Homo sapiens: one gene and its partner. The protein of the gene in region 1 interacts with the protein of each later gene in a pairwise test. Each region holds a gene or a part of one and is shown on either strand. Other genes may lie near its edges.

Evidence for each region.
Region 2: the proteins of MAP3K13 (region 1) and PRDX3 interact in a two-hybrid assay, tested with the Homo sapiens proteins (one study listed by BioGRID).

The regions. Positions count from the first base shown.
Region 1 is NC_000003.12:185,356,822-185,367,032, forward strand, and holds the start of MAP3K13 (mitogen-activated protein kinase kinase kinase 13), read left to right. Parts: upstream 1-6,314; 5' UTR 6,315-6,547; intron 6,548-10,211. UniProt on the Homo sapiens protein: Activates the JUN N-terminal pathway through activation of the MAP kinase kinase MAP2K7. Acts synergistically with PRDX3 to regulate the activation of NF-kappa-B in the cytosol.
Region 2 is NC_000010.11:119,167,651-119,176,970, reverse strand, and holds the end of PRDX3 (thioredoxin-dependent peroxide reductase, mitochondrial isoform a precursor), read left to right. Parts: intron 1-2,378; coding exon 2,379-2,520; intron 2,521-3,098; coding exon 3,099-3,234; intron 3,235-4,485; coding exon 4,486-4,589; intron 4,590-7,628; coding exon 7,629-7,794; intron 7,795-8,437; coding exon 8,438-8,491; 3' UTR 8,492-9,251; downstream 9,252-9,320. UniProt on the Homo sapiens protein: Thiol-specific peroxidase that catalyzes the reduction of hydrogen peroxide and organic hydroperoxides to water and alcohols, respectively. Plays a role in cell protection against oxidative stress by detoxifying peroxides.

The DNA of each region.
Region 1 (10,211 bases):
GAGATATTTCCTTCAAATGGGGATGATACAGAGGCAGACTTCATGTATGTATGTATGTATGTATGTATGTATGTATGTATGTATGTATTTATGTATTGAGACGGAGTCTCGCTCTGCCGCCCGACTTTAAAAGGCAGATATCCACTACTCTGATGTTTTGGTCTTTAATTATATTGCATGCAATGTGTGGCTACAGTGGAAATGCCAACTTGTGTCTAGCTAAAGAAGGGGAGAAATTAAAACAGAATCAAAGAATAGAAGTTAGAGAGTTAAGAAGTTTTTTTTTTTTCTCTCTCTCTCTCTCTTTTTACATGAGCTCTAAGAAAGTATTATGAATTCTAGGCCGGGTGCAGTGGCTCACGCCCGTAATCCCAGCACTTTGGGAGGCCGAGGCGGGCGGATCACCTGAGGTCAGGAGTTTAAGACCAGCCTGGCCAAAATGGTGACACCCCATCTCAACTAAAAATACAAAAAAAATTAGCTGCATGTGGTGGCGGGCGCCTGTAATCTCAGCTACTCAGGAGGCTGAGGCAGGAGAATTGCTTGAACCCGGGAGGCGGAGGTTACGGTGAGCCAAGATCGCGCCATTGCACTCCAGCCTGGGCAACAAGAGTGAAACTCCATCTAAAAAAAAAAAAAAAAAAAAGAAAAAAAGAAAAAGAAAGAAAGAAAGTAGTATGAATTCTATGTGGATGAGTAAAGTAATCTATAAAGTCTTCTTTTGCTCTTTCAGTGTATAAAGTACCTTTGCAAACTCAGTATATTATTTTTAATCCTGCAAAGGTTTGGTTTATGGTATTTTGCCAGAATTTGTATGTTATGGAATGGTGTATTTTGGGGATGGTAAATATTTTATTAATTGAGAAATCCATCTGCTTTTGATTTGCTTCAGTACATTTGTGTTATCAGTCAGAGAAGAATCTTATATCCCTCATTGGTAATCATCCTTTTGACAGGAATAACACATTAAAGCTTCATTAAGCTGTTAAGACTTATTCTGAATAGCACATAAAATCTCAAGCAATTGCTTTTCTCCAGCTGGCTAGATATTTTATTATCCTTTAATTAAAAATATTGAATAGTTAAGTCTAATTAACTCACAATATTCTTTAAAGTTTGCCATAATGTGTACCTTTAATATAAAGATGACTGTAGAATTTAACATGAGGCTTTAATCTTCTTAAAAGTTTACAGATATGTATTTAGTGCAAATTTTTATTTATAGCATACCTTTTCAAAAAGTGTTTGAAGTGCTTATCATAAAAAAGAATGTATATAATAAGGTTAACCATAGAGTAATCCAACCCAAAACAAGGAAGAGAAAGCAAGTATGCATGTAAATATATACTTTTGTGCTTAGCTTATTTTAAAGCATATGAATTTTAAAGTTGGCTCTGAGCTTCCCAGCAGCAGGGTCGAAAAAATGAAAATTCAGTGGATTACACTGTTATCATCTAAAAGGTAGACAGACACCTAATAATTCTTCAAGAACAGAAAATTTTTCCTTCATATTAAGTTGTAAAACAAATTCTCCATGTGAATTCCTTACATGGGAGATATCATTCAAGATAATGGACAACACAGAAGCAATATGAATCTTCCTTATAATAATTTTTAATAAAAGCAAGACCACAACACTCAATGATAGTTATTCTTCTAAGGGGTATTAGGCTAATGATATTTAGATAGCATGTAGCTTTCTGATGATCTCCCTTGACACAAGGATAGATTTGAGTGAACTTATAAGAATGTTTTTCCTTAGATGTTTCTTAAAAATCACTTTCTCAGATAGGCATTTAATGGGAGCTGGACAGAGAAAAATGGCAGTATTAATAATAATCTGCTGAGGTCTTTGAATATTGAAATTCAGTTATTGACCAAGGCTCCATATACTTTGGAGTGGAAATAGGGTTAACATTCTGATATGAAAGTGGAGAATTCTGACCAGTATTCCCAACTAGGAGACAGATTGTTTTCCAGATTAATTCACATCATTTTATACAAACTACATCTTTATGTAGAAAAATGTAGCTGCTTTTTAAAAACAATGAATAGAGCTCTTGATCAGCTAGCATAACTACCTGAAGGTTCCCCTGATCTGTTTCAGAACCCCAAAGATATTCCCCAACCACCTGAAGGAAAATGACTTGGATGAACTTCCCTTTGGAAGTTGGGTCACTAATAGATATTTTTAGAATTTCCTGAAAAGATTTTGTATTAGTCTGTTTTCACGCTGATGATAAAAACGTACCTGAGACTGGGCAATTTACAAAAGAAAGAGGTTTAATTGGACTTACAGTTCCACATGGCTGGGGAAACCTCGCAATTATGGTGGAAGGCAAGGAAGAGCAAGTTATATCTTACACGGACGGCAGCAGGCAAAGAGAGAGTGAGGAAGATGCAAAAGTGGAAACCCCTGATAAAACCATCAGATCTTGTGAGACCTATTCACTACCATGAGAACAGTATGGAGGAACTGCCCCCATGATTCAATTACCCCCCACCAGATCCCTCCCACAACACATGGGGATTATGGGATTACAATTCAAGATGAGATTTGGGTGGGGACACAGAGCCAAACCATATCAGATCTGTTCAAGATTTATTATAAGCAAAATAAAGATGTTGTATTAGTTCCTGTGGTTCTGATTCCTGGATCTGCACAGTTGTTGAAATTTCCCTTGTTGAGAGAGTAGCAGGGTCTCAATAACAAAATAAAACCAGCTACCAGTATCATTTACTGAGTAACTTCTGTATGTAGGTACTGTGTGCAAATCTTTACATGTGTTATAATATTACTTTAACCTTCACACAATAATATAGGCTATTATAATCCCCATTCTAATAATGAGAAAACTGAAACTCAGGTTTACCTGAATATTCATAACTAATAAGTGGCAGAAATAGGATTTGAGCCCAGATCTCTTTACCAGCTTTTAACCACTACACACTTATCTGTGAAGGAAATTTGAGTCTCCACGTATTAGCATTTGAGATCACTAAACTCTTTCTTTTTCCTGGTATTTCTGACAAAAATTGCCCATGGGTCATGATACTTTGGACTTCGATTCTGGCTTAAATGAGTTGTTTTCCTTTTTTAAAAACACATTTTTTTCCTCAAAAAAAAAAAACTCCAAAACAAGAATAGCTTATATTTTATAGCAGAATTATTGTACCTTAATTTCTATATATAGATTTTTATCTAATAATGAGTTTTAAATATCTTCTTGCATAATGAGACTAGAGTCATTTTCCAGTTATTACTGAAGTTTGAGGAGATTCATTTGGTTCTTAAAAGAGCTTACTCACCTTGATAATGGCTTTGCAGTCCTCCACACTTAGTATGCCCATGTGCTGCAATTAAAAATTACTTATAATGATGGGACTTGGCTTGATATCTCTAGAGTTGCATTGTTGCATACCATAGCCACCAGCTAAATGTGACTATTTTGGAGTTAAATAAATTTAAATCACTTTACATTAAAAATTCACTTCCTCAAGAACACTAGCCATCTTTCAAATCTATGGAATGCTCCATAATCACAGCAAGTTCTCTTGGGCTGTACTTCTCTAGAGTGTACATTTTTCATGCCTCTATATCCCTTCCTACCTTCTGCTTCTAAAATGATAATGACTTCCTCCAAGACTGACTTCTATATCTTCCATAATTTGGTGAGACAGCTTATCTTTCCAATGATTTCCCATGATAGTTGACATGGAGGAGTCTTTGTTGGCCTAGCTGATGTTCCTGTGGTACAGGAAGCATGCTAACTGAGGCCAAGTTTATCATCTTACTGAAGTGGCAAGTCCATAAAGCCCCCAAGTTTTTATTTTCCAGGTTATATATTGAGCCAAGAATCTTAGGTGACTGTTATTAGAAGCATTTATAGACCCTGTTTTGTTGAATTGCTTCAGAGACTACTCCCATCCATAGTGGACTTATTAGTAATTTTGTTGCTGTCAAAACTTACAGAAAAACTTCTACAACAGCTTTAGCTTTTTTTTTTTTTTTTTTTTTTTTTGAGAGAGGGAGTCTCACTCTGTCACCAGGCTGGAGTGCAGTGGTGTGATCTCAGCTCACTGCAACCTCTGCCTCCCAGATTCAAGCGATTCTCATGCCTCAGCTTCCCGAGTAGCTGGGATTACAGATGTGTGCCACCATGCCCAGCTAATTTTTGTATTTTTAGTAGAGATGGGGTTTCACCATGTTGGCCAGGCTTGTCTCAAACTCCTGACCTCAGATTTTATATGTATATGTGTATGTGTATATATATATATGTGTGTGTGTGTGTGTGTGTGTGTATACACACATATATACATATACATATATACAGATTTTATATGTGTGTGTATATATTATATATATATATACACACACACACAAATTGATGTTTCTTGGCTATTTTATTGACATAGTCCACAAAAAGTTTGCCTCTTTCCATTAGTTAGTCTGTATTGTTTTGGAAGAAAAAAATGTTTTCCATAAATCTGATTCTTTTAATGTATCCTGATTGGCTTTGGTTGTTGTTAAATAGAGATGTATATTCTTCAGCTTTCCATTTGTTCGTTTTTTGTTTTTTTTTTTTCTTTTTTCTTTGAGACGGAGTCTTGCTCTGTCACCCAGGCTGGAGTGCAGTGGCAAGATCTCGGCTCACTGCAAGCTCCGCCTCCCGGGTTCACGCCATTCTCCTGCCTCAGCCTCCCGAGTAGCTGGGGCTACAGGCGCCCACCATCACGCCCGGCTAATTTTGTTTTTGTATTTTTAGTAGAGACGGGGTTTCACCATGTTAGCCAGGATGGTCTCGATCCCTGACCTCGTGATCCGCCCACCTTGGCCTCCCAAAGTGTTGGGATTACAGGCATGAGCCACCGTGCCTTGCATGTTCGTTCTTAAATAATGTGGTACACTGAGGCCTACTGGGCGTGTACCAATGCCGTATTTGCCTTGAGCACTCCCATGTTACATGTGTAAACTTCTTTGGTCTATCTTTTTTGTAGTGATATTCCACAATAAGCTCCTTTAGAGAAGTTTGTTAACTATGTTGTTTGCCAACGATATTCTATTGCTTCAATATAGACAGTACACTGAATATCTTTGCTGTGTGTAAAATTATCCTGAAAAGTTTTCCTTTTCCAAATGAGCTAAGAAGTGTGCAATACTTACTAGTGGTCAGGTTTAGACCCTCCAGAACCACTTAGAAACAGGCCACCACTTTCCTTCTCTCACAGTTGTATAAATAATCTGATTGAGAAATAGAGCAGATCTCTGTTCAGAATGTTCTTGGTCACTGGACACCTCATAACTGAGGCTTTATATTAACCACGATCGTTCTAGTTTCAAGGATTGAGGCCATTTCCCAAGTTCAGAAAAATCATGATCAGTATTTGTCAAGTATTAGTCATTGTGAAGTGTAGTGATGGGGAGTAGGGACAATAAATATATTCATCTCCAATTTTGTATAACTGAAAAGTGTAAAAATAAAGAAGAAAGAGATGCCTCTTGAGTGAATTTAATACAGCTGTTTTTGCTGTTAATAATAAAACATCTTACTGAAACCAAAATTTGTTCAAAGTTTCATTAAGTGCCCTTTTGGAGCTGTGTCTTAATCGACTGCCAGAAGTTGAATAAACCAATGAGGAAACACTGTACCCTACTTAAAAGTAGCAGTAAATTTTTCTTCCATATCCACTTTTGATACATCATGAAGGTCAGCAAGATGTTACTGCTGTGCAAAACAGCTACATTCGTGTAATATTATTTTCCATATGTCTGTTTTCTTAGTTACTAGATTATTGTTCCCATGCGTTCTTCCCGACAATTTTGCTTTTACAAGTCCCGACAATTTTGCTTTTACAAGTCGTGGTGAGCAGGGCATACATGTCCACTAGTCTGCTAGTTTTAGAAATGGTTTTCCTGACTTTGATTTGTTTTGATCGCATCAGGCATATTGCTGAACAGTAAGAAAAGGGTTGAAGAAAAGAGTTCTAATGAATAAAAGATGGGATTTCTTCTATATGCATTTTTGTTATCCTTGATTCCACAGAAATTCTATTTTGATTCCTTCATTCAATAACAATAATAATGTTTTTATGACTATCACAGCTTGAAACACACACACACACACACACACACACGCACACACACACACACACACACACACTCAAGCTGCCAGTCTGTCTTAAGGCAGTGGCAGATGCCTGATTGGCGGGCTCTGTTTATTCTGTGACCAGATTCCTTCTAAAAGAAGGAAGGCCATGTCTGCCTGAAGCCTATTGGCTGGGCCTACTCTGGACCCGCCCCTCTTTTTTTTTTCATGACACACACCACAGCGAAGTCTGTGCGGAATCCTAAACCAGCCCAATTTACATCCATTCATGAATCTGTGACGTCAGCAAGCCTTTGGGCTCCTTTGCGGTGGGCTGGAGGATTGTGTGGGTGGAATCCCCCTCCCCTTTATTTTTCCAATTCTGCAAGGCTTTTAAAATTCACCTTACATCTTTTCAAAGCAAGAAAATGGAACAGCATGTGTAGGAATTCTTCGTTGTTGTGAGTATTGCACTCTGTTTTTCCTGTTTCTTCAGTATTTATTTCACAAGGACAGACAGAGAATGTGTGATTTGAGGTGATTAGAAAGCTGATATTATTGAGGGCGACACCGTGAGAGAGACAGAGAGACAGAGGCGGAGAGAAACCCGAAACCCCGTTACAGCTAGGAGCCTCTGAAACTGACAGCTGGTTTTCCTTTGCTTGTCTGCCTGCTAGACGTGGACATTTTTCATTTACGGTTCTGCACGTTACCTCGGATGCCTGCTTGGCTTTCCTTAAAGGGAGATTCATTTCTCTGAGAGATGATGTGGATGGTATTAGCAGAAAAGCCCAGAACACCAGAAAGGTGCTGAGAAAAGCGGGGCCCGCAAGACAGAGCAGGTTCTATCCTGTGGGGCACTTGTCTTCCTTGCGACCGTCCTTTCTGCCGTTCCTCACCCTTCACCTTGCCTTTGTTTCATATTGTGTAACAGTCAGTATCTTGCGATTGCAATTTGGTGAAGATGAATACTTGTTCAACCATTTTTCAAAAGCTCTTATGACGGGAGCCATAGTGGTGTATTTATATATATTCATAGCTCTTCTTTATGTCACTCTCTACACTTTATAGTGTCAAAAACTTAAAAAGCTGCATTCGAGGGAAAGGGGGAATTATCCTTAAACTTGGGTTTTTCAATATCCTCTAATGAAAACTAAGAAGTGGTTACAATGTTCCACAATTATATTGCATAGAAATGCACATGAGTGTTTTCCTAAGATGAACTTATTAGCTGAAAATAGTTTATTCCACTGTGTTGGGGAAACATGGAAAAGTTCTGATATGTTCCATGTATAAAGTTGGTTTGGTAGTTTGCTACTGTAGTTTTAACAAAAAGTTACTATTTGTGATTGAATTTGTTTTCCAAGGGTCTGTTTATTCTGGTGAAAGTTGTGAGAGTAAAGAAGAGGGATGTGACATTGTGACATGTTCTGCCCCTGGGGCAGCTCCTCAACCCGAATAATCTGACAGCATTTCCCAACTGCTTCACTTTGAGCGATTTATATGCCAGTCTGCAGCATGTACCCAGTTGTTCTTTCTCCTGAGAAAGCAAAATGCCTGATATTTCTTATAATCCAGGCTGCCATGTTTACCTTGTAAAATCAATACTTAATTTTTAGATTTTTATATTATCTTTTCTCGTGAAGCAAGACTTCTAAATTATGGCTATAATATCTTTTGAATTGTTGTTCTTAATGAATCTTCCAACTGTAAACTCATCTAATTTCAAACTTATCATACCTGAGGATGTAACATTGTCTTTTGTTTCTCATCTTGATATTACCGTCAATCATTTTGTATTTCTGAGTACATTTGAACTTGCTGGAGTAATAGAGGGAAAACCTCTGCCTGATTCTAAATCAGATCTTTGTCCTATACTCGGACAATTATGGTTTCATATTTTATTATTTTTTATTTTCTGGGTTTAACAAATGAGATAACATTTTAGACATAATATTTGTAAACATCTTGACTTATTTCAGCATTTTCCTTTTTTGTATATCTTCAGAGAGTTTGTTGAAAGTAGCAATTTCCAAGTAATTTTAAATTATTGAAGTCTACTAGCACGAAAGGTCAAATTCTTAGGATATTTAAAAAATGTTGTTTAATAATCAAACTCATCTTAAAAAATGTTCATCAGACTCTGTCTTTGATGCACATTTTGCCAAAAGAGAGCCTTATTTCTGTGAAAGAAATACAGTATGTACTTTGGATTTACTAAAGTAAAACTGTTACTTTAAGGCACAGAGCAGATATAGAATCCCCCTCTCTCCCCACTCCTAGTGACTGTATTCTACATTATATTTATCTTCATGTATAGTGTACTTGTAGGGAAAAAAACAATAACTCTTAATTGTTTAATATCAAACAATAAAATCCTGTGTATCAGTGACTGTCAATAGATGGCTTTCTGTTTAAAAACTGAAGCTACTCCAGAAGTAGGAATTAATTTATTTAGTAAACAAAGTCAGTCAAACCAGAGCCATGTCCTGGGGAACTGTCAAAAGAATGGTTCCTAAGGGCCAGAGGCCACATCCACTGGTAGATGACAGAACAACCATACTTCAGATGGCAAAACCGGTCAGTTTGGTTTGCGTTGTGTGCCTATCCTCTTTCTGTGTGCTTCAGCTGAATTAAGTGCTTGGAGAGCTCAAATAGTTCAAGATAGCCAAGATGACCAATTCTGCCAGGTGGCAGCCTGATCTTGCAATTTTGATTAAAATAAAGAACATTCCCCAAGAACAGTTTGTTGCAAAAAAATAAAAATAAAAAAATCACACCCTTGCTCTGTGTTACTATTCTGTAAGAATATGGGGGAGAAAAAAATTTAGAAAATGCAGTCTTTACTCTGAAGGAATCTAGAAAGGAAAATGCCGGAAATAAACTTCAGTATTAGAATTACCTGTGGAACCTTTTTCCCTTCCCTCCCTACCTCTTTCTCCCCATCCCCTCCCCTCCCCTCCCCTCCCCTCCCCTCCCCTCCCCTCCCCTCCCCTCCCCTCTCTTCCCCTCCCCTTTCCCTTCCCTCCCTCCCTCCCTCCCTCCCTTCCTTCCTTCCTTTCTTTTCTCTTTTCTTTTTTCCTATTTAATGGTTTTTAGTATGTTCACAGAGTTGTACAATCATCACAATCCATTTTAGAACATTTTCATCATCACAAAAAGAAACCACATACCCATTAGCAGTCACTCCTCATTTCTCTTCACCCCCCAGCCCTAGACAACCGCCAATCTGCTTTCTCTATATATAGATTTGCTCAGTCTGGATATTTCATGTAAATGAAATCATACAGTACATGCTCTTTTGTAACTAGCTTATTTCACTTAGCATAATGTTTTCAAAGTTTGTCCATGTTGTAGCCTATATCAGTACTTCTTATCTTTTTATTCCCAAGAAATATTCCAGTGCACCATATTTTACTTATCCATTCATCAGTTGATAGATATTTGGGCTTCCGCTTTTTGACTATTAGGAATAATGCTTCTATGAACATTTGTGTACACATTTTTGTGTGAATTTGTTTTAATTTCTCTTGGGTATATACCTGGGACTTGAATTGCTGGGTCATTATGATTACTATATGTTTAACATTTTCAGGAGATGCCAAATTGTTTTCCAAAGTGGTTGCACCATTTTACATTCCCATCAGCAATGTATGAGGGTCCAGTTTCAGCACATCCTCTTCAACACTTGTTATTATCTATCTTTTCTATTAGAACCATCTTAACAAGTTTGAAATGGAATCTCATTGTGGTTTTGGTTTATATTTCCCTAAAAGTGAATGATGTCAAGGATCTTTTTATGTGCTTATTGGCCATCTGTATATCTTCTTTGGAAAAATATCTATTTAGACACATTGTCCACATTAAAAATTAAATTATCTTTTAATCCTGACTTGCAAGTGTCCTTTATATATTCTGGACACAAGCTCTTTATCAGATGTATACTTTGCAAATATTTTCTCTCATTCCATAGGTTGCCTCCACTTTCTTGATAATATTGTTTATGGTATAAAAATTTTTAATTTTGATGAAGTTCAGTTTTATTTTCTTTTGTTGCCTATGCTTTTGGTGTCATATCTAAGTTGGCTTTGCCTGACTCAAGGTCATAAAGATTTACTTCTATGT
Region 2 (9,320 bases), on another chromosome or scaffold:
CATCGTCTCTGGACAGGGGCTCTGAACCCTGGCCAAACGTTAGAGTCACCTGGGAGCTTTCAGGAACACAGCACTGCCCCCGTCCCACCCCAGACAAGTTAGTCTGTGGGGTGAGACCAGGATGTGCCGGGTGATTCTAACGTGCAGCCAGGGTTGAGAATCACTGAGGCAAACTGCCCTTGTCACATTTCCATGTTGGTTGTCAGAGTTTCTAATCCACTGTGTTGAGGAGGGTGTTACTGGGAGCTCAGATGCCTTCTGAGTCTAGTGTGTCTGAAGAGCTGTGAGTGGTGGGCAGCCTGTGGGGGACCTGAGAGGGCAGCTGCTCTAAGATTCAAACCTGTGTAATGGCCCCAGCTGGCCACTTAGGAACCAGACCTGTCTAATGGTATCTGTAATCTGAGCGAAATTTAGCTGTTTCTTGAGATTTACACTCCCTTCTCTAGGATATGGGCTTTGCTAAGATCAGCCTCAGATAATGAGTGGTATTTGAAAATACCTTGTCTAGATTTGACTAGCCTTTGAAAAAGCCCGTATTTAATATGTAATGGTTTGTGGGGATATACTTTAGTAAAGCCTTTGTTTGTGGGCAAAATGTTCTAAGAGCTTTCGCAATTTTACTACCCTGGAGCTTCAAAATATTTCTAGTAGTGATGTGATACCACAGGCTTAAAACTTTACTCCACTGGTTTCGAATCCTCATCCCCAGCAGCGCCTCCTGTTTCTGTTCATGGCGGTGTCAGGCATTTTGACATTGGAACTACTCTGTCGCTCATTCCTGGGTAGAAGCAAGTCCTTTTCAGTTTTGACACATCTCTTGCATCCATTCCTTTCTGTTCTTTCTGCCCCATACCTCCCCTCAATACGTCTAAGATCACTGAAATCGAGGCTGGGCACAGTGGCTCACACCTGTAATCCCAGCACTTTGAGAGGCCAAGGCAGGCGAATTACTTGAGGTCAGGAGTTCAAGACCATCCTGGCCAACCTGGTGAAATCCCGTCTCTACTAAAAATACTTAAAAAAAATAAGCCGGGTGTGGTGGTGTGCTACTGGAATCCCAGCTACTTGGGAGGCTGAGGCAGGAGAATTGCTTGAACCTGGGAGGCGGAGGTTGCAGTGAGCCGAGACCATGCCACTACACTCCAGCCTAGGTGACAGAGCGAAACTCTGTCTCAAAAAAAAAAAAATCACTGAAACCACCTCCTAACATGTCTCCCCCTTCCTCCTGCTCCTCTTTCCCTCCTGCCGGACTAATCTTCCTAAAAACCCCCATCTCAGCCAGGCACTGTGGCTCACGCCTGTAATCCCAGCACTTTGGGAGGCCGAGGCTGGCAGATCACGAGGTCAGGAGATGGAGACCATCCTGGCTAACACGGTGAAACCCCATCTCTACTAAAAATACAAAAAATTAGCCGGGCGGGGTGGCGGGCGCCTGTGGTCCCAGCTACTCGGGAGGCTGAGGCCGGAGAATGGCGTGAACCCAGGAGGCAGAGCTTGCAGTGAGCTGAGATTGTGCCACTGCACTCCAGCCTGGGCGAACAGAGCGAGACTCCGCCCTTGACTCTGTTATCTTTCCTGCTAAGAAGACCCAGCAGCCTAGTATTTAAGGACTGTTGCAACATGGCCTTCAACCATTCCTGCCTGCTGCCTGCTCTTCACTCCGTACCCTTAGACACTCTCTGTTCTCATTAGACTGCCACACGCTGCTCCACACACATGTCCTGTCTTCCTTCCTGCTGTTTCCTACATGCCATCTGCCCCATCCCATCTAGACTTGACAAAATCTGAACCATATTTAAAATCCATCTCTAGTCTCATGTCTTCCTTAATTCTATCCCTACTTTGTCTTCCTCTTTTTAGTTTCTGTAGCAGTTGGAATTGAATTTGTGCACAATCTAAAACTATAGAAGGAGAAATTACAGTTGGCCCTCTGTATCTGGATTCTGCATCTGTGGTTGGTTGAATCGAAAATATTGGGAGGGAAAAATGGATGGTTGTGTCTATACTGAACACAAAGTCTTTTTTTCTTGTCATTCCCTAAACAATACAGCTTAACGACTATTTACGTAGCATTTACGTCGTATTAGGTATTATGAGTAATCTAGAGATGATTTAAGTATACTGGAGGGTGTGTGTGGATTATATGCAAATCACCACTTTATGTAAGAGACTTGAGCATCTGTAGATTTCGATATCCTAGAACCAATCCCCCCACAGGTGGCAAAGGATGACTGTGCCTAAGATGTACAGTTGAACCGAATGTTTTGATTTATACTAAGCACTTTATACTACTAATTAATTATGAGAAGTTTAAATAAAATCATAGGTGCTTGACATAGCAAATGATGAACTCCATATGAGTGTGGGTTTTTTTTCAGGTTCCTCATGCCATGCACCTGCTGTCACCCAGCATGCACCCTATTTTAAGGGTACAGCCGTTGTCAATGGAGAGTTCAAAGACCTAAGCCTTGATGACTTTAAGGGGAAATATTTGGTGCTTTTCTTCTATCCTTTGGATTTGTAAGTGTAATTTCTATGATGCTTTCGTGTCATTCTGAGAGCAAGCACATATCCTGTTCCCACACTGAATTGTCTATCCCTAGATACCCTTGTGAAAGGAAGGATTCTTTCTGACCCTTTATCACTGATGGCCTTGTTGATTACAGCTGGGATCTGTAGCTTGTTTACAAGTGATAAACTTCGGGGGTGGGGTAGGACAGCTTTCTTTATAGTACACCTCTGTGCTCTGGAGCACTGCTTCCCTAAGCCAGTCTATGAAAAAGTTTTCACTGGTCTGGGGAAAAATGAGAAAAGTAGGCATAATAAAATGATTTTTTTCAAAAAGCAACTTTATTGAACTGTAATTTTTTTTTCTTAAAATATGTGTTCCCTTTCCCCATTTTTTGATACAATTCCTAAAAATAAAAAGGTGAGGGGAGGTAGTAGTACTTTTGCCAGCACAACACTATAGTCCAGTGAGGATGGTAAACCATTTTGCCTTTTTTACCCTTAGCAAGTTGAACTAGTTGTTAGACCACTAATTGTTAAAATCCTTGTTTTTAAATGCTCTAATGAGAATTTCTATCCTTTTTTTCCAGCACCTTTGTGTGTCCTACAGAAATTGTTGCTTTTAGTGACAAAGCTAACGAATTTCACGACGTGAACTGTGAAGTTGTCGCAGTCTCAGTGGATTCCCACTTTAGCCATCTTGCCTGGATAAATACACCAAGAAAGGTATGGCATTGTACCCCTAGCTTTTGCTCTTATAAACTTGCTTGGAAGAATCTAAATTTCTAGCTATGCTGCTGGACTATCAAGATCAAATTACGCAAGGGTTGGGTTTTTTTTTTTTTTTTTTTTTGAGACGGAGCTTCACTCTTGTTGCCCAGGCTGGAGTGCAATGGCACAATCTCAGCTCACTGCAACCTCCGCCACCTGGGTTCAAGCGATTCTCCTACCTCAGCTTCCCGAGTAGCTGGGATTACAGGCATGTGTCACCACCCCTGGCTAATTTTGTATTTTTAGTAGAGACGGGGTGTCTCCATGTTGGTCACGCTGGTCTCGAACTCCTGACCTCAGGTGATCCGCCCACCTTGGCCTCCCAAAGTGCCGGAATTACAGGCATGAGCCACCACACCTGGCCTACTCAAGGTATTTTTTTTATTATTACTCTTCCATGTCTATGTTTGAGAAAATTAGCCTTTAAAAGAATGCTTTAAGAATTAGAAAAAGCAGCCGGGCGTGATGGCTCACGCCTGTAATCCCAGCACTTTGAGAGGCCGAGACAGGTGGATCACAAAGTCAGGAGATCGAGACCATCCTGGCTAACACGGTGAAACCCCATCTCTACTAAAAATAAAAAAAATTAGCCAAGTGTGGTGGTGGGCGCCTGTAGTCCCAGCTACTCGGGAGGCTGAGGCAGGAGAATCGCTTGAACCCAGGAGGCGGTGGTTGCCATGAGCCAAGATCGCACCACTGCACTCCAGCCTGGGCGACAGAGCGAGACTCCATCTCAAAATAAATAAATAAATAAATAAAATAATAAAGAATTAGAAAAAGCATCTGTAGTCCCAGCTACTCAGGAGACTGGGGTAGGATGATTGCATGAGCCCAGGAGTTTGAGGCTGCTGTGAGCTGTGATTGCATCACTGCATTCCAGCCTGGTGACAGCGAGACTCTGTGTCTTAAAAAAAAAATTGGAAAAGGTCTATAGTATTAGCCGGGTGTAAATCTTCCTTCTGCTCCTTTCTAGCTGTGACCTGGAACAAGTTACTTAGGTTTTTCTTGCCTCAGTTTCCTCATTTTGATAGTGTCTTCTCCAGGGTGGTTTCGAGGAGGCAGTAGGTTAATAGAGTAAGCAGTGCTTGGCCCGTTGTTGAATTACTGTTACCTATCGCCGTTACTGTTGGTCTCAAACATTGTGGTACGTGGTCAAGAATGTTGTGAGGCCACACATTCTAACAGTCATGTTTGCATTTTGATTAGAATGGTGGTTTGGGCCACATGAACATCGCACTCTTGTCAGACTTAACTAAGCAGATTTCCCGAGACTACGGTGTGCTGTTAGAAGGTTCTGGTCTTGCACTAAGGTAAGATCCTGTTTCTGATGAACTTAAGATTATTTTTCATGTTTAGTATCATTCTGCTTCTTAGGGGATTTATGTAGACCTTGGTAAAGCATTTTTAAAACCAGAAGATCCTGGCTGGGCATGGTGGCTCATGCCTGTAATCGTAGCACTTTGGGAGGCCAAGGCGGGAAGATCACTTGAGTTCAGAAGTTCAAGACCAGCCTGGGCAACATAGTGAGACCTCATCCCTATTATATTAAAAAGAATTAAAATTTATAATAATCAATCCTTAATTTTAGTCTTTAATAAACACTGATGAAATGCCTCCTGCAAGGGTTGGCGGTCTCTCAGAAATGCTGAGACATGCATGTCCCCTCCACCACCTTGGGTCTCTTTCTGAAGAAGGCTGGCTGCGTCTTGAGGCCACACTGCTCCATACTCCCTAACTATGTGGGAGCCACTTCCATGGGGACACACACCTGACATTGAAGCCATCAGACTCTGCAGAAGGGGGGACTAGCAGGGTAAGAGGTAGTCTCTTGGAATGGTGACCATCTTCAGCCCTGGAACCAAACAATCCTTGGTTTGAGTTTTTCTTTTTTTTAACTCAGCTACTTAATAGCTGTGTGACTTTGGGCAACTGATTTGATTTAACCTTGTTGAGCCCCAGTTTTCCCATAACTAAAATGAGGTGGTACGTCACAGGTGGGTGTGAGGATTAAATAGTGACACAGCTAGAGTTTTTAGCATAGTTACTGGCAGCAGTTGTTAGGATTTCTGCCCCAGAACATCATTTCTATCTGTATTCAGTCCCTTATTAAACCTTTATTCCTTTGAGTGTGAAAAGCTTTCAGTCCTCAGCAGCCCCACATTCAAACATAACCTTCCTGGGAGGGATGAGAACTTGGGTCTTAGAATTGGCATCTTGAAGTCTGCTGAGAATAGGAGTGAAGGAGGGATAGGGCAGAACTTGACCTCCAGGAAGGAAGAGAGGGGATCCCCCTTTGATGTGCTGTGCCTCACAGTTTTGCTGGGGGCTGGTCAGCTTAAAGCCAGCTCACCTGGCCGGGCGCGGTGGCTCAGGCCTGTAATGCCAGCACTTTGGGAGGCCGAGGCAGGTGGATCACGAGGTCAAGAGATCGAGACCATCCTGGTCAACATGGTGAAACCCCGTCTCTACTAAAAATACAAAAAATTAGCTGGGCGTGGTGGTGGGCGCCTGTAGTCCCAGCTACTCGGGAGGCTGAGGCAGGAGAATGGCGTGAACCTGGGAGGTGGAGCTTGCAGTGAGCTGAGATCGCACCACTGCACTCCAGCCTGGGCGACAGAGCAAGACTCTGTCTCAAAAGCAAACAAACAAACAAACAAACAAAGCCAGCTCACCTGCCTGTCTTGTAGGTGACCTCTGGCCTGCTCTTTCTTGGGTTACACCTTGGGTTTTAGCGCTGAGTGGCATCTTAGAGTTTGGGCCTTTTTTTCCTCTCTTTTTTTTTTTTTCTTTTCTTTTCGAGACGGTGTCTTGCTTTATCGCCCAGGCTGGAGTGCAGTGGCGTGATCTCGGCTCACTGCAACCTCCACCTCCCGGGTTCAAGCAGTTCTCCTGCCTCAGCCTCCCGAGTAGCTGGGATTACAGGCACACGCCACCACGCCCGGCCAATTTTTGTATTCTTAGTAGAGATGGGGTTTCATCGTGTTGGCCAGGCTGGTCTCAAAACTCTTGACTTCGTGATCTGCCTGCCTCGGCCTCTCAAAAGTGCTGGGATTACAGGCATGAGCCACCGCACCTGGCAGACCATTTTTTTTTTTTTAAACTTTAAAGAGATTATCAAACGAATGCCTAGGTCTTTCAGAATTGTCAATGGCCAGAGAAAGGGTACTGGCTATTTTTCTCCTACGGTCCCTTTCCCTATGAGAACTCACTAATTTTGCAGTTACCTCTGTACCCGTTTTAATATTGAGATTAACAAGAGAGAGAAGCTGAGTCTGGCTTATAAGATAAAGACTTTTGGGAGTCTATGGGCCCTGCTCTGTCCCAGCTCTGCCTCACCTTCTATTGGTGGACTTCAGCTGGCTGCACCCTCTGGGAACAGTTTCACCTCAAACCCCAGGCTCCCAGTGCCTGACCCAGGGAGGGAGAAGCATCTTTTATCCTGAGTTTTCTCTAACCTGCCTTTTCCATGAGTGATTGATACCTGAAATTTCCACATCCTTTTAAGACAGACTGTTAAAACCTGTAGGTTAAATAACCGGACACAGTGACACACACCTATAGTCACGCTACTTGGGAGTCTGAGGTGGGAGGATCAGTTGAGCCAGAAGTTCGAGGCTGCAGCCTGCTGTGATCACACCTGAGAAGAGCACTGCACTCCAGCGTGGGCAATACAGTGAGACCCTATATTTAAACCAAACAACCAAAAAAACTTCTAGGCTAAACATATCTGCATCTGTCACAGTAACACCAACACAGAAGATAAACACAGACCACTGTGGTAGCGTGGTTCATCTCATTACATGCTGCTACATGATTAAAAGTGATGGGCATGGTTTTCTGTTTTGCATAGACTTAGAGCCTGTACATTCTTTCTATGAAGATTTTTCCCGTGGGATTTCCCCCCATTTACCCAATAATTCATTCATAATAAACAGTTGTTGAACCTAGATAAAATACACCTCTGTCTCTTCCCATTTGCCTATAAGTTTCTTGCCAAGATGTGATACAGCAGCTCAAAGAATGCTTGCCAAGTCACTAATAGTCTTTGCTCTCTCTAGTTCAGTGACTTTCCGATACTGTGTAACATTCAGGGCACTATGTGAACTTGTAAGTGTGACCATACTGCATGTTTTATGGTGACCTGGTCCAGTACTGCCTTTGTTAAAGCATCTGTCATCAGTAAGAGATGATAAGTTTTTTGCACAACAGTGAAAACCCCACCTTTAAGCATATGATTACGCTTAATAAATATTTTATTAAAAGGAGAATTAAAGACCTAAAAGGGAAGAAGTTAGACTGTTCTAGTTCTGGTACTGTTGAGGCACTGATGAGGATAAATGATCATGCAGAGGTCTCTTCATAATTGACCCCAATGGAGTCATCAAGCATTTGAGCGTCAACGATCTCCCAGTGGGCCGAAGCGTGGAAGAAACCCTCCGCTTGGTGAAGGCGTTCCAGTATGTAGAAACACATGGAGAAGTCTGCCCAGCGAACTGGACACCGGATTCTCCTACGGTAGGTTTTTTTCCCCAAAAGCAGTGAGGTCCATGTTCTCTCAGCCTCGAGAGCTATTGACCTGAAATATCCACAAAAGGGAGCCCACTCTTGAAGCAAGCGTGCAGATGATATGCAAATGGGTGAAGCTGCTGTGGGGTAGAGGGGGTGGGGTGGGGAGCCAGGAACCAATTATCAGAGACAGGCAGGCCTTTTTTTTTTTTTTTGAGACGGAGTCTTGCTCTCGCCCAGGCTGGAGTGCAGTGGCGCTCTCTCAGCTCACTGCAAGCTCCGCCTCCTGGGTTCACGCCATTGTCCTGCCTCAGCCTCCTGAGTAGCTGGGACTACAGGGCGCCCACCACCACGGCTAATTTTTTGAATTTTAGTAGAGACGGGGTTTCACCGTGTTAGCCAGGATGGTCTGGATCTCCTGACCTCGTGATCCACCCGCCTTGGCCTCCCAAAGTGCTGGGATTACCGGCGTGAGCCACCGTGCCCGGCCTAGAGACAGGCAGGCCTTAATGAAACTTTCATCTTTATGTTTTAAAGGAAATCTTTAAAAGTTTAAAGAACTTTAGGTTAAAAATTGGGAGATTGCCACTCACTTTTGGGACTATTATTATGGTAAAGTCACAGTTACCTAATTAAGCTTTTGTATTTTCAGATCAAGCCAAGTCCAGCTGCTTCCAAAGAGTACTTTCAGAAGGTAAATCAGTAGATCACCCATGTGTATCTGCACCTTCTCAACTGAGAGAAGAACCACAGTTGAAACCTGCTTTTATCATTTTCAAGATGGTTATTTGTAGAAGGCAAGGAACCAATTATGCTTGTATTCATAAGTATTACTCTAAATGTTTTGTTTTTGTAATTCTGGCTAAGACCTTTTAAACATGGTTAGTTGCTAGTACAAGGAATCCTTTATTGGTAACATCTTGGTGGCTGGCTAGCTAGTTTCTACAGAACATAATTTGCCTCTATAGAAGGCTATTCTTAGATCATGTCTCAATGGAAACACTCTTCTTTCTTAGCCTTACTTGAATCTTGCCTATAATAAAGTAGAGCAACACACATTGAAAGCTTCTGATCAACGGTCCTGAAATTTTCATCTTGAATGTCTTTGTATTAAACTGAATTTTCTTTTAAGCTAACAAAGATCATAATTTTCAATGATTAGCCGTGTAACTCCTGCAATGAATGTTTATGTGATTGAAGCAAATGTGAATCGTATTATTTTAAAAAGTGGCAGAGTGACTTAACTGATCATGCATGATCCCTCATCCCTGAAATTGAGTTTATGTAGTCATTTTACTTATTTTATTCATTAGCTAACTTTGTCTATGTATATTTCTAGATATTGATTAGTGTAATCGATTATAAAGGATATTTATCAAATCCAGGGATTGCATTTTGAAATTATAATTATTTTCTTTGCTGAAGTATTCATTGTAAAACATACAAAATAAACATATTTTAAAACATTTGCATTTTACCACCAGTAACTGTTGGATCAGCTTATTTTGGGCTCTCCTTTCCTTCTCAGATTATCA